Linked DNA regions of Homo sapiens. The protein of the gene in region 2 purifies or fractionates together with the protein of the main gene of each other region. This does not show direct contact. Each region holds a gene or a part of one and is shown on either strand. Other genes may lie near its edges.

Region 1 (3,651 bases), on a different chromosome or scaffold from region 2:
TGCCTGTAATCCCAGGTATTTGGGAGGCTGAGGCAGGATAATCGCTTGAACCCAGGAGGCGGAGGTTGTGGTGAGCTGAGATTGCGCCATTGCACTCCAGCCTGGGTGGCAACAAGAGCAAAACTCCGTCTAAAAAAAAAAGAAAGAAAAATACGGCCTACAGAGTTACACAAACACGTCCCATTCTATCCTGGCTATTACACAGTGGTATATGACCTTCAGTGAGTTGCATAACCTCCCTGAGGCCTTGTTTCCTCATTTTTGAAATCAGGACAATACCCACATCTCATAGTATTATTATTATGAGTAATAAGAGAGAAAACACGTGTGCATTTCTTAGCCCAGTAGCTGGGCTATTATCTAATGTTAGTTTATCATCTAATAAACTCTAATATCACCAATTGTTGGGAGCAGGCCCCCCAAATCTGGCCATAAACTGGCCCCAAAACTGGCCATAAACAAAATCTCTGCAGCACTGTAACATGTTCATAAAGGCCCTAATGCCCATGCTGGAAGGTTGTGGGTTTACGGGAATGAGGGCTAGGAACACCTGGCCTGCCAAGGGCGGAAAACCACTTAAAGGCATTTTTTTTTTTTTTTGAGATGGAGTCTCGCTCCGTCGCCCAGGCTGGAGTGCAGTGGCGTGGTCTCGGCTCACTGCAAGCTCCACCTCCTGGGTTCACACCATTCTCCTGCCCCAGCCTCCCGAGTAGCTGGGACTACAGGCACCCGCCACCATGCCTGGCTAATTTTTTGTATTTTTAGTAGAGACGGTGAAACACCATAGTTAACCAGGATGGTCTCCTGACCTTGAGATCCACCCGCCTCGGCCTCCCAAAATCCTGGGATTACAGGCGTGAGCCACTGCGCCGGCCCTTAAAGGCATTCTTAAGCCACAAACAATAGCATGAGCAATCTGTGTCTTAAGAGCGTGTTCCTGCTGCAGTTAACTAGCCCAACCTATTCCTTTAATTCAGCCCATCCATTTCCCATAAGGGATACTTTTAGTTAATTTACTATCTATAGAAACAATGCTAATGACTGGTTTGCTGTTAATAAATACGTGGGCAAATCTCTGTTCGGGGCTCTCAGCTCTGAAGGCTGTGAGACCCCTGATTTCCCACTTCACACCTCTATATTTCTGTGTGTGTGTCTTTAATTCCTCTAGCGCCGCTGGGTTAGGGTCTCCCCGACCAAGCTGGTCTCAGCAACCAATATTAGAGTTTTTTCTTAAAGTTCTCAGTCTTTTTTGCTAGTATTTTGTCTTCAAAACTTTTTTATTTTTGTAAGTCAGAGTCTTGCTCTGTCACCCAGGCTGGAATGCAATGACGTGATCTTGGCTCACTGCAATCTCTGCCTCCCGGGATGAAGTGATCCTCCTGCCTCAGCCTCCTGAGTAGCTGGGATTACAGACATGCGCCACCATGCCTGGCTAATTTTTGTATTTTTAGTAGAGATGGGGTCCCATCATGTTTCCCAGGCTAGACTCGAACTCCTGACCTCAGGTGATCCACCCACCTTGGCCTCCCAAAGTGTTGCGATTACAGGTGTGAGCTGGTGTGCCCTGCTGTCTTCAAAACTTTTAAGATATGCCCAAATAATAGATCTGGAACTAAAACCTATTTGTACAGACTTTTCAGCTTATTATTTCTATTTCTGATAGTGCAAAACTTCCAAACTAGCCTCAAAGATGAGACATGAATCCTTCTCCAGGTTTTCACCACCACCACCACCAGAATCTTCATCTCGAGATCACTAACTACATACACCCAGCCCTTCCTCTCCTGAAGGCTTTACCCTCCTGTTGATGGGCCATAGCTAAGTGTGATTTCCAATCAGCAGTGGTCCTGGCGTGGAGTCCAAAAAGCTCTTGCTTGAGACACAAGATAGTAGCACCAGTGATTCTTGCACTGACAATGGTTCTTACACCTAGCTGTGCCTCACCCCTGAAAATTCCACTCAGGTTCCTGAGGTGGAACCCAGACCCTAACACAGTAAACAAGTCCCACAAATGATTCTGATGCAGAACCAAGGATTGAGATCCACTACCCTAGAATAGTGGCCAAGTTGATTTACCCTGATGCTCACCCTTTTCTGACATTCCTTCTGGTGGCAGTGTCAGTAGCTTTCATTTGCCTAGGAGGGCAGAAACAAAGAAATGAATCAGAGACTTACAGTACTGTTAAGTGTGCTGTGAACAGGCAGAACAAAGAGCTTGAGTTTCTGAGGAAAGAACCAGACATAAAAGGCAAATGGCACAAGCTTAAGAGCTCTGAGAGACTATGCATTACTGCTTCGGCACAGATTATTGAAAAGGCTTTTTAGTAGCAAAGGGGCATGCCTCCGACCACCCTAACAACCTGACAGAGCTGTTCCTCTCAAGATGGCGTGGCTATCTCATGTCAACCTCACTCACCTGGAACTGACTGCTGGCTGGGGACATACACACACACTAGGGCTGGACTGTGTGGTCAGAGCAGCAACCTAGGATAACAACTAGTCCCCACCCTGCATGACTACCCCTCAGGGTTGCTGTATGACTACAGTGCTGCCACTTGTATGCTCAGAGCAAGCGATGAAAGAGGAAAGAACACCTCTTATAACTCTGGCTGTGTCTCTTCAGAAAGATCAACACAGAGGGTTCTGGCACAGAGCTCAGCAATGCTGCACTGCTCTGGGCCACTGATTGAAGGCCAGTTGTTCAGGAGACTTGTGTTGTCCAAAACTCTGTTTTCTAATTCTTTGTATTGAGCAATTTCTAGGAAGATGTTCTAACTGGATACTAATGATCCGTTCTCACCCATTCTCTCGTCTCAGTTTGGTGATTTTTGTAACATCATTCTCTGGACCTCCTGAATGAAGCTGTTTGGAAACATCGACTTCTTTGGACCTAACAGGTAAGAGACTCTTAGAAGTGGCCCGAGTTTGTGTGTCTGCAAAGGAAAATGAGAGGTAAAGCTTCTGGCATCATGACCCGACAGTTGCAACCCTGTAACAAACAGAGCCCCATTCGAAGTTGTCATAAATCTTTATTTTACTTTATTTTAAAAAGTATTATTTATTTTTTTGAGACAGAGTCTTGCTCTGTGGCCCAGGCTGGAGTACAGTGGTGTGATCTTGGCTCACTGCAACCTCCACCTCTTGGGTTCAAACGATTCTCCTGCCTCAGCCTCCCGAGTAGCTGGACTATAGGCACCTCAAATATGTTTTAAAATTTTAAAAATAGAGACAGGGTCTCACTATGTTGCCCAGCCTGGTCTCGAACTCCTGGGCTCAAGCAATCCTCCTGCCTTGGCCACTCTGGCGTGAGCCACGATGCCTGGCCAAATCTTTATTTTCATTCTGGCAAATTTCAACATGTGAAGATTAATTCAAAAGAATAAAACTTCCAGGCTAATTGGCAATAAAAACCAAAATTATTTAAACGTGACAGTACAGCATGTTTGAGGGTAGCCAAAAGTTTCATTGAACTGAAAGGTGTAGGCTGTAAAAGTGAACATGGAGATGGACACCAGCAGAGAGCAGGGTGGAAGTTAGCAGGTAAAACATGCCTGAATCCTTGTACCATCTCATTAAGCTCCTCCAAGCACTCTGCACACTCTCCTAAGGCATGACTGAGCTGCTCTGAGTTTTTTTAAACCGTTACTTCGT
Region 2 (3,751 bases):
GAAGGTAAGGAGGTAGAGATAGAATAAGGTAGGTAGAGGTCAAGGTAGGATGGCAAGGGGGGGATTTCAGGCCCGATGGTCTCTAACTCCCTAATAAATGGCAATGAAAAGTTTCTTCTTGTAACAACAGACATTCTTGGTTTGAGGAGAACGATAAAGCTTTATCAAAGCTGCATGCCTCCCTAGGGGCACCTAGGCATGTGACTGAGGCCACATGGCCACAGTGTCCTCAGGACCCTAAGACGGCACAGAGACAGTGGATGGAGTGTAGAAGGCCTGGGAACGTAAACATACATGCAGTGGATGGACAAGGTAAGGACACTGAGAGCACAAGTATGAGAGTGGCTTAAGGGGTGGTTGATGGTTGGGGTGAAGCAGAGGCATAGAAAAGACATGTAGTTTCTATAAGTGGGGCGTTGGGGTGGCCACAGGTAGATTTGGGGATAGAGCATGAGACTGCTAGAAGGATGGAGGCTGGGCCGGAGTGGCACTGGATCTCAGAAGAGGGATGGATCTGAAAAGGAGATCCAGGGAGAGGGTGTGAGAGCTGATGTGGAGGAAGCAGCCACAGGATTAGAATTCACGGCATTTCTTGCCTAATGAGGTTGCCTGGGATGACTGGGAACGGGTGGAGAAAGAGGCCTGAGCCCGCACCAAAGCACAATGGAACGGAGCTTAGGATGGGTGGCGGAAGTGTGGGGCGGGAGGAGCGTGGGGCGGGAGGAGTGTGGGGCGGGAGCGTGGGGCGGGAGTGTAGGGTCTGGCTTGGGTATCACTTTAGGTGTGAAGGACGGGGGTTGAGCGAGTCAGAGCCTAGAGTCTGGTTTGTGGTCTGAGTGTCTTGCCTGGTACGAAGAGTTTCTAACAGAGTCTGGGATCCCTCTGAGAACAAGGAATGTGAGGGGATAAGAGGGATGCTTGGTGCAGAGATGTGCTCTTTTGTACGGGATGAGAGCAGCACAGGAAGGGAATGCACCTGTGATGTGGGAGAGAAGTCTTGGAGTTGGGCTATGAAGAGTCTGGGCGGGTCCTGAAGTGCAGGTGGAGGAAGCCAGAGGTGCGTGTGGGAACTTGGGGTGTGAGGTGGTGTGTGGACTCCGGGGTCCCAGGTGTGGCAGGTGTGAGGGTAAGAGGGGCAGGCTGCACGGAATGAGAAGCCCAGGGTGTGCAGACTTCAGGATCAGGAGTGTATGGTGTGAGGACATGGAGATTAGGTTAAGGGGGTGAAGGACTGAGGTGAGGGATGTAAGGTGGGGAGAGTGGGGTATGGAGTGTGCAGTGAGGGGAGCGGGGGAGGGGTGAGGCGGGGTGAGGCGGGGTGAGGAGGGGTGAGGGGTGAGGCGGGGTGAGGGGTGAGGCGGGGTGAGGGGTGAGGCTGGGTGAGGAGGCGGGTGAACGGTGACGTGAGCGATGAGGGGTGAGGGGCGAGGCGGGTGAGGCGGGGTAAGGAGGGGTGAGGCGGGGTGAGGGGTGAAGGGTGAGGCGGGGTGAGGGGTGAAGGGTGAGGCGGGGTGAGGGGTGAGGGGTGAGGCGGGGTGAGGGGTGAAGGGTGAGGCGGGGTGAGGGGTGAAGGGTGAGGCGGGGTGAGGGGTGAGGCGGGGTGAGGGGTGAGGCGGGGTGAGGGGTGAGGGGTGAGGCGGGGTGAGGAGGGGTGAGGGGTGAGGGGCGAGGCGGGTGAGGCGGGGTGAGGAGGGGTGAGGGGTGAGGCGGGATGAGGGGTGAGGGGTGAGGCGGGATGAGGGGTGAGGGGTGAGGCGGGGTGAGGGGTGAGGCGGGGTGAGGGGTGAGGGGCGAGGCTGGGTGAGGAGGCGGGTGAGCGGTGACGTGAGCGATGAGGGGTGAAGGGTGAGGCGGGGTGAGGGGCGTCGGGGGAGGGGCATGGGGTGTGGAGTGAGTGGAGTCGGGTGAGTGGAGTTGGGTCGAAGTCAAGGGTCTGGCTTGAGGTTGGTGCCACCGCGAACGCTAGGACAGGGTCAGGCGGAGCCCAGCCGTCAGGGCGCGTTGGGAGGGCCGGGGCCCAGGGGGGCGCGGCCTCGCTCACCTCCAGCTTGGCCCGCGCTCCGGTCCTGCTCTGGCGCCCCCAGCGGCCGCTTGAGGAACAAGGCCGCTCCTCGAGAGGGATGCCCCGCCCTTTCCGTTAGCGAACCCTCCCCGGAAGTGACCTCTCGCCCTCATTGGGTGTCCTCGGGAAAAGGGGCGGGGCATTCCGCGCTGCTCCCACAGGTCTGCGGCGTCCGAGTCTGGGACTGGCAGGTGCGGTGCTGGGGACGTCCTGAGGTTGAGGGAGAATCCTGCGGAGATGAAGAGCTTCCCGGCCTGACAGTTTTGCCCCCACCTCCTTCTTGAGCTTAAGGATTTATACGCAGGGCCCCGTTTGCCTGCTGTGTCCCCAGTGTCCAGGACAGCGCCCGGTACCAAAGGTGCTGGTAAACATTTGTCGAATGAGTCGCTGAACGCCCAGCTATTTCCACTGTCACAGCGATCATGTGTGGCGGACATTATGTGGCATGTATCTTACAGAGGAGGCAGCCCGGGCTCAGGGAGACGAGGCAGAGGTGCACGCAGGTCTATGTGGGCTGGAAAGTGCTGGGGCCTCCCGGGCGCTCCTGGTCTCCAGGCAAGAACTGGAAGCAGAGCCACTCAACACCTAGAAGGGCAGTGACAGAAAGCTCTGGCTGGGAGGAGGCTGACCAGAGGCCAGTCTGAGCTCAGCCTTTTTTTTCAGAGGGACGTGGGCACCCTAGAAGGGTGGTAAGTAGGCGAGTGGCAGAGTTAAAAGGTCTCTGGCTGCCGAGGCGGGTGGCGACGGGGCCGGCCGTTGCTGTTGTTTGGCTGAGTGGTGGACAGGGTCAAAGCCATTCCAAGGTCGACTTGACAGGGCTTGGTAATGTGGGAGGGAGGGAGAAAGAAGCAAGGGGCTAATGGCCGGGGTGATACCACTGGCAGAGATGTGGAAGAGTGGGAGAAGCTAGCTTGGAAGGTTAACTTTGATTTTGAACACCTTGTGTTTGAGAATCCTGACAAACCTTAGACCCCCTGAATTTTCTCTCAGGGATTCTGATTCTTAGCAGCCTGATTGCAGAGGAGGAAAAATGGCTGGGGTTGAGCCAGACAGTTCTGGGCAAGGAGTGAGCATTCGCTTGTTTATTGAGGAGGCTGCTGCCTGGGCCACACTCCCTCCGCCAGCTGCCAGGTTCCTGCCCCGGTTGAACCCGGTTTTCTGGCCATCCCTTTCCACCTGTGAGCTGCTCTTCATACTTCCATTTGCTTATACAGCCCAGAGCCGATTTCTGTTACAGCAGCCCAGAGAAACATGAATAGGGAATAATTCTTTTTTTTTTTTTTTGAGACGGAGTCTTGCTCTGTTGCCCAGGCTGGAGTGCAGTGGCACGATCTCGGCTCACTGCAACCTCCGCCTCCCAGGTTCAAGTGATTCTCCTGCCTCAGCCTCCCTAGTAGCTGGGATTACAAGCACATGCCACAACGCCCAGCTAGTTTTTGTATTTTTAGTAGAGACCGGGTTTCGCTATGTTGGCCAGGCTGGTCTCGAACTCCTGTCCTCAGGTGATCCACCCGCCTCGGACTCCCAAAGTGCTGGGATTACAGGTGTGAGCCACTGTGCTTGGCCCGAATCAGGAATAATTCTGATGGCTAAGGAAGACAGCTTCCGAGAGAGTAGGAGAAAGGGCACAGGATTCCAGGCAGAAGGCCCATCTAGGGCAAAGGCGAAGGTGTGGCTCAGCCTGCCTCC

Evidence for each region.
Region 1: the proteins of SYCE3 (region 2) and KNSTRN purify together in Homo sapiens (co-immunoprecipitation; 3 studies listed by BioGRID and IntAct, with this or other methods). This does not show direct contact.

The regions. Positions count from the first base shown.
Region 1 is NC_000015.10:40,385,644-40,389,294, reverse strand, and holds part of KNSTRN (small kinetochore-associated protein), read right to left. Parts: intron 2,934-3,651; coding exon 2,801-2,933; intron 2,137-2,800; coding exon 2,089-2,136; intron 1-2,088. UniProt on the Homo sapiens protein: Essential component of the mitotic spindle required for faithful chromosome segregation and progression into anaphase.
Region 2 is NC_000022.11:50,560,817-50,564,567, forward strand, and holds the start of SYCE3 (synaptonemal complex central element protein 3), read right to left. Parts: upstream 2,104-3,751; 5' UTR 2,042-2,103; intron 1,263-2,041; exon of another isoform or gene 977-1,262; intron 1-976. UniProt on the Homo sapiens protein: Major component of the transverse central element of synaptonemal complexes (SCS), formed between homologous chromosomes during meiotic prophase.